Linked DNA regions of Homo sapiens. The protein of the gene in region 2 interacts with the protein of the main gene of each other region in a pairwise test. Each region holds a gene or a part of one and is shown on either strand. Other genes may lie near its edges.

Region 1 (3,671 bases), on a different chromosome or scaffold from region 2:
AACACTTAGTATTGGGTAATTTATTTCAAATAAGATTATAATCAGCCTATCAACAAATGAGGCAATATGTAAAAGTGATTAACTGAACTAATAAATTTTTTTATGCTTAGGTCCAGTAAGTCCCAAGACTTTTAGAGAGAATGCAGTATGGTAAAACTGAAATAATACCTCTCAAGAAGACAGATACTTGGGTTCTAGAGGATCCACTCACAATCAACAAGTCTCGATTTCCATAGTCCTTAGATCCCTCAAATATAAATTAGGAAAATTATTTTACCTGCCTGAAGTTGAGACCAAACTAAATAATCTCTTGAATAGTATGATTCTATAAGTGACTGAAAGTGCAATCTTGCTTCTGAAATTTGAGCTACTGTCAAAAGCGCTCAGCAACATTGTGAACTGAGCATATGGCCTTAACTCCAGGGTGCATGGGTAGGCTGGGGTAAAGAAAAGACAGAAAAATTAAAAGCCCAGGCCCGTGCCACTTATGGGAGTGGGGCCTGAGTTTATGCAACCCATGCAGAATGAAAATTCCAAGGTGAAAAAATAGTATGAACTCAAATATCTATAAGAATTAATGAACACTAAAGATAATACTTCAAGTATTAGGAAAAAGGGATTATTCCCCTGTTGGGGAAACATGTTGGGACAACTAGATAACCTTCTGTTAAAAAACACAACCCCTTGGGAGGCCAAGGCGGGTAGATCACGAGGTCAGGAGTTTGAGACCAACCTGGCCAAGATGGTGAAACCCTGTCTCTTATACTAAAAATATAAAAATTAGCCGGGCACGGTGGTGGGCGCCTGTAATCCCGGTTACTCAAGAGGCTGAGGCAGGAGAATCGCTTGAACCCGGGATACGCAGGTTGCAGTGAGCCGAGATGGCGCCACTGCACTCTAGCCTGGGTGACAGAGCAAGATTCCTTCTCAAAAACAAACAAACACCCACCACCCCACCAAATTTGGACTCTAATTTCACATCTTAAAGCAAAATCAATTTCAAATGGAACTAAAAAACTGAGACCACAGAAGTACTAAAAAAACTACAGATTTTTAAAAACAATTTTAAGTGCATAAAGTCTTTAAATATAATACATAACTTAGCAGCTATAAAAGAAAAGATAAATTTGAATACATAAAACCAAAACTTTGTGTGGTTCAAAAAAACACCATAAATAAGTAAAAGGACAAACTAGAAAAAATATTTGCGGCAAAGGCTGATTTACTTTATAAAGAACACCTAAAATCTGTACGATCAATATGATGATTGAAAAACTGCAGCAGGGCTGGGCGCAGTGGCTCATGCCTGTAATCTCAGCACTTTGGGAGGCTGAGGTGGGCGGATTGCCCGAGGTCAGGAGTTCGAGACCAGACTGACCAACATGGAGAAACCCCGTCTCTACTAAAAATACAAAATTAGCTGGGTGTCGTGGCGCATGCCTGCAATCCCAGCTACTCGGGAGGCTGAGGCAGGAGAATCGCTTGAACCCAGCAGGCAGAGGTTGCAGTGAGCCGAGATTGCATCATTGCACTCCAGCCTGGGCAACAAGAGTGAAACTCTGTCTCAAAAAAAAAAAAAGAGAAAAACTGTGGCAAAGGATATATGAATAAACAATTTGTAGAAAAGGCATCATAAATGACTCAACTTTTTAAAAAGAAGTCCAACCTCATTAAGTAAATGAGAAATGTAAATTTAAACAAATATTGAGATACCATTTTAACCTCTCAAGAGTGACAAAGACCAAGAAGCTTAATACCACGTTTTTGGCAAGAAGTGAGAAACAGGCATTTTCATCAAGTGTAAATTGGTCCAACCTCTCTGAAGGGCAGTTTAGAAACAAGAATCCAAATTAAAAATATCCATACCCCAAGCCTCGGTAATTTTATTTCCAGGAATTTACTTTATAATCATAATTTTACACACATGTGTAAAATGACATGTACATATTTATTGCAGCATCATGCAATAACAGGAGACTGAAAACAAATGTTAACAGTGGACTGTTAAATTATGACTTATTCATAAAATAGAATATTATGCATGTATTCAAAAGAATAAGATGGCTCTCTATACTGATGTCAAAGGCTCTTGTGATATTAAAATATTGTGAAGGGTATGCATAGTATACTATAATTAGTGTGGGGGGAAAGGAAGATATCCACATGCTTGTACTTGCACCCAAAATAGCTCTAGAACAATACGTAGACTGGTGCTTTGCTGCTATGGAAGGGAACATGGTGGCTGGGACTAGTTGTGGGAAGTAGACTTATTTTTCACTGTATATCCTTTTGAATTTTCTATTTTGAGCATGTATTACTTAATTTAAAAAATCATTGTTTTAACTTACGTGAGGCCCTATTTTGCAACATACCCAAAGCACTTTACCTCTTTCACAACTTAGGGCTCATGGAATTTTACAGGAAATACTCCAAAATTAAAAAAAGTAACTACTGAAGATAATAAGTTCACAATAAAAAATATAAACTACATGAAGAAACAAACCATCATGGAGGAGTGGGCACATATAACAGATACAGAAGCAGATTAAAGAACTAAAGTAAATTTGCTTAAAATTATTAAGAAATGGTACAAAAGGAAAGATTAAGAGACATTAAGAATAGAATGAAAACCTAATGTATATCTATTAACAGTTCCAGAGGAAGGAACAGAGATAATGGAAGAGGCAATAAGTAACAGCAAATTTTCTGGGAAAAAAAAAAAAAAAAAAAAAAGGACAATATATCCACAGACTTGAGTAGAGTTTGGTACATGGTAAATAAAATCAAATCCATACCTGGACAAATCCTAGTAAAATAGCAAAACCCCAAAGACAAAAAGATCTCAACTACAACCAAAAGGAAGAAAAAGATTAATAAAAGTAAAGAGAAACTACAAGCCGACTCCTCACCAACAAGTGGAAGACAGTGGCATAACGCTACTCAAGAGTTGAGGTATAATAAGGTCAATTTACATTTTTTTTTGAGACAGGGTCTTGCTCTGTCACCCAGGTTGAGTGCAGTGGTGTTATCAAGGCTCATTGATCTTCTGGGCTCAAGCGATCTTAATACCTCAGACTCTTGAGTAGCTGGGGCCACAGGTGCATGTCACTATGCCTAGCTAATTTTTTATATTTTTGTAAGAGACAGAGTCTCGCCATATTGCCCAGGCTAGTCTTGAACTGCTGGGCTCAAGCAGTCCTCCCACCTTGGTCTCCCAAAAATGGTAGGATTATAGGCATGAGCCACTGCGCCTGGCCCAATCTACAATTTTATATTCTAAACCCAAACTATTATTCCTGAGTGAGGAAAAATAAAAAATTTTTTCCTGCCAGTGAAAAACTATAGGACACACCTCACTAAAATAAAAAGTGAACCCCAAAGAAATGAGATGCAAGAAACAACAGTGAATTAAAAAAATGATAACCATGTTAGTAAATTTAAACAAGGACTATATTAAAAAGATAATAATTTCATCAATTTTGGGGTGGAGTTTGAAAAAACAAAGTGAAGCTAAAGTCTAATAGTGATACTGTGGAAAACAGGATGGGGGAGGAATCAGAGTTAAAGCTTTCTAACCAGGGCCTCAACATATGACTATGTACAACGCAGGGGATACTATCCATATTTGTAGTCATGGCAGTTTTGCTTATTTATTAAGAAATAATCTGTCA
Region 2 (3,671 bases):
GAGGTGGAGGTTGCAGTGAGCCGAGATCACACCACTGCACTCCAGCCTGGCAACAGAGTGAGATTCCATCTCAAAACAAAAACAAAAACGAAAAAACCTTAAAATTTTTTTTCTTTAAAGGTATACACACAAATATAGTTCTTTCATATTCTCATGTGATGTTTGCAAATTGCTTGTTAGAACGAACAGCAGTAGTATGGAACATAAATCCCACACCTCAGTGGTGTTTTTTTTTTTTTTTTTTTTTGAGACAGAGTCTTACTCTGTTGCCCACGCAGGAGTGCAGTGGCACAATCTCTGCTCACTGCAACCTCCGCCTCCCAGGTCCAAGCCATTATCCTGCCTCAGCCTCCCAACTAGCTGGGATTACTGGTGTGCACCACTGTGCCTGGCTAATGTTTGTATTTTTAGTAGAGACGGGGTTTCACCATGTTGCCCAGGCTGGTTACAAACTCCTGAGTTCAAGTGATCCACTCACCTCAGCTTCTCAAAGTGCTGGGATTATAGACGTGAGCCACTGCGCCTGGCCTCAATGGTTTCTTTACATACCAATACTCTAGATATTAAACTACTTTTGTATTGGCCAGAGATAAAATAGATTAAATTATGTGTTGTATTGAATAACACCTGAATCAACAGTTAATACTGGCAAGTTGGAGGAGCCGTGATTTTTTTTTTAAAGTCATACTTCTTCTCTAAGCAACTTTAAATTGCTAGGGTTTTTAAAGAATATTGGGCCAAGCAAGGTGGCTCATGCCTGTAATCCCAGCACTTTGGGAGGCCAAGTTTTCTTTTTTTAATATATATTTTTTCTTTTTTTTTTTTTTTTTTTTTTTTGCTACCTTTGGATTCTTGATAGTGAGCTTCCAATAATTATTTCTTAACAGCATTTAAGTCTGATTTACACATCATACTTTATACCAGCAGCAGGGCTGGTTATGCCTGTACTAATATTCAGACATATATTGAAAAACTAGCCTTGTCTTTTTCTACTGTGTAAAAACCTTTATTGTCAATACATTTTACTTGTACTTAAGCTAAATTTTTTTTCTTTTTTTTTTTGAGATGGAGTCTCACTCTGTCACCCAGGCTGGAGCGCAGTGGTGCAGTCTCAGCTCACTGCAACTTCCGCCTTCTGGGTTCAAGTGATTCTCCTGCCTCAGCCTCCTGAGTAGCTGGGACTACAGGCATGAACCACCATGCCCAAGAAAGGAGGATCATTTGGAAAAAATATATATATATTATCTGATGGCCCACATCTGTGGTCCCAGCTACTTGGGAGGCTGACATGGGACGACTGCTTGAGCCCTGGAGGTTGTGGCTGCAGTGAGCTGTTATCAACTGCTGCACTCCAGCCTGGGCAAGAGAGTGAGAGGCCATCTGAAAGAAAAAAAAAAAAAAGGCAAGAATATACATCTATCTGTTTTCAGTTTAAAATAAAACATTTAAGTCTATATATGTTTTTTTCTTTTTTTTTGAGACAGAGTTTCACTCTGTTGCCCAGGCTAGAGTGCAATGGCATGATCTCTGCTCACTGCATCCTCTACCTCCCAGGTTCAAGTGATTCTCCTGCCTCAGCCTCCCAAGTGTCTGGTATTACAGGCACCCACCATCATGCCTGGCTAATTTTTGTATTTTGGTAGAGATGGAGGTTTCACCGTGTTGGCCAGGTTGGTCTTAAAGTCCTGACCTCAGGTGATCCACCCGCCTTGGCCTCCCAAAGTGCTGGGATTACAGGCATGAGCCATCTCGCCCGGCCTATATATATGTTTTTCTGATTCCTTCTTTAAGTTTTAGTTAATTGACTAATTACCAGCCTTGATCACGTTGGATTCCTCTGTATCTCTGCCATTTATCTTTTGAAAATTAAAAACACAAAACGAGTAAAAATTCCAAGAGGATGGAAATCATTTTTAACCCAGCTTTGTTTCCTGTCCCTCAACATTTGCCAAATTGTATTATGCAAAGTAGGTAGTTAGATTTCTGCTCAAATAATTTTCACTTTGGTTCTTAATATAACACCAAATACTGGCTGGGTGCGGTGGCTCATGCCTGTAATCCCAGCACTTTGGGAGGCTGAGGCCAGCGGATCACCTGAGGTCAGGAGTTTGAGACCAGCCTGTCCAACGTGGTGAAACCCCATCTCTACTGAAAATACAAAACTAGCCAGGCATGGTGGTGCATGCCTGTAGTCCCAGCTACCCAGGAGGCTGAGGCAGGAGAATAGCTGGAACCCAGGAGGCAGAGGTTGCAGTGAGCCAAGATTGCGCCACTGCACTCCAGCCTGAGCAACAGACTGAGGCTCCGTCTCAAAAAAAAAAAATAAAATAAATAAATAAATAAATAGACCAAATACTATATTTTTACTTTTTCCTCCGCAAGCATGTAAATCGTAATTTTACTTACAAGTGACTAAATGTCAAGAAATAAAGAAGCACACAGTTGCACAATTTGTGAGAAATAAGAATTTGGTGTTTCAGTGAGATTATCATAGAACTAGAATTTGACACGATATTTTCTTTTTTTCTTTTTTTTTTTTTTTGAGACAGAGTCTCTCTCTGTCGCCCAGGCTGGAGTGCCATGGCACGATCTTGGCTCACTGCAAGCTCTGCCTCACAGGTTCATGACATTTTCCTGCCTCAGCCTCCCAAGTAGCTGGGACTACAGGTACCCGCCACCGCGCCCAGCTAATTTTTTGTATTTTTATTAGAGACAGGGTTTCACCGTGATAGCCAGGATGGTCTGGATCTCCTGACCTCTGATCTGCCTGCCTCGGCCTCCCAAAGTGCTGGGATTACAGGTGTGAGCCACCACACCTGACCAACACGATGATATTTTCAGTTTTATTTCTAGTTATGTAATTTTCTCTATATGGGAAACTACAACTTATACATTACTGATATTCATAATATAGTGTAGCTGATCGCTCTAATTGTAACTGTATTCCCAAGATAGTGTTTATTCTAGAATTATGCTCTGTACATTTGTTCTGGAAATGACAACCATCATGAGTTTTTTAATGCCCAAAGGAGAGTACAGTAAACCCTCTGTATCCCTGAGTTCCACATTGAGCATTTAAGCACCTGTGGATTGAGACTATTCAGAAAGGGCTGGGTGTGGTGGCTCACACCTACAATCCCAGGACCTTGGGAGGCCGAGGCGAGCAGATTGCCCGTGTTCAGGAGCTCAAGACCAGCCTGGACAACATGGCGAGACCCCATCTCTACAAAAAATACAGAAATTAGCCGGGTGTGGTGGTACGTGCCTGTAGTCCCAGCTACTTGGGGGCACTAAGGCAGGAGGCCCTCCTTGAGCCCCAGGAGGTTGAGGCTGCAGTGAGCCGTGGTCTCACCATTGCACTCCAGCAGCCTGGGTGGCAGAGCAAGACCAAGAAGAGCAACACCCTGTCGGCCGGGCACGGTGGCTCACGCTTGTAATCCCAGAACTTTGGCAGGCTGAGGCGGGCGGATCATGAGGTCAGGAGATCGGGACCATCCTGGCTAACATGGTGAAACCCCGTCTCTACTAAAAAATACAAAAAATTAGCCAGGCGTGGTGGCAGGCACCTGTAGTCCCAGCTACTCGGGAGGCTGAAGCAGGAGAATGGCATGAACCTGGGAGGCAGAGCTTGCAGTGAGCCGAGATCATGCCACTGCACTCCAGCCTGGGCA

The links. The genes of interacting proteins can lie anywhere in the genome.
Region 1: the proteins of UBXN8 (region 2) and PGRMC2 interact in binary tests that used the Homo sapiens proteins (3 or more experiments, as listed by UniProt).

The regions. Positions count from the first base shown.
Region 1 is NC_000004.12:128,277,643-128,281,313, forward strand, and holds part of PGRMC2 (membrane-associated progesterone receptor component 2), read right to left. Parts: intron 1-3,671. UniProt on the Homo sapiens protein: Required for the maintenance of uterine histoarchitecture and normal female reproductive lifespan. May serve as a universal non-classical progesterone receptor in the uterus.
Region 2 is NC_000008.11:30,747,082-30,750,752, forward strand, and holds part of UBXN8 (UBX domain-containing protein 8), read left to right. Parts: intron 1-3,671. UniProt on the Homo sapiens protein: Involved in endoplasmic reticulum-associated degradation (ERAD) for misfolded lumenal proteins, possibly by tethering VCP to the endoplasmic reticulum membrane. May play a role in reproduction.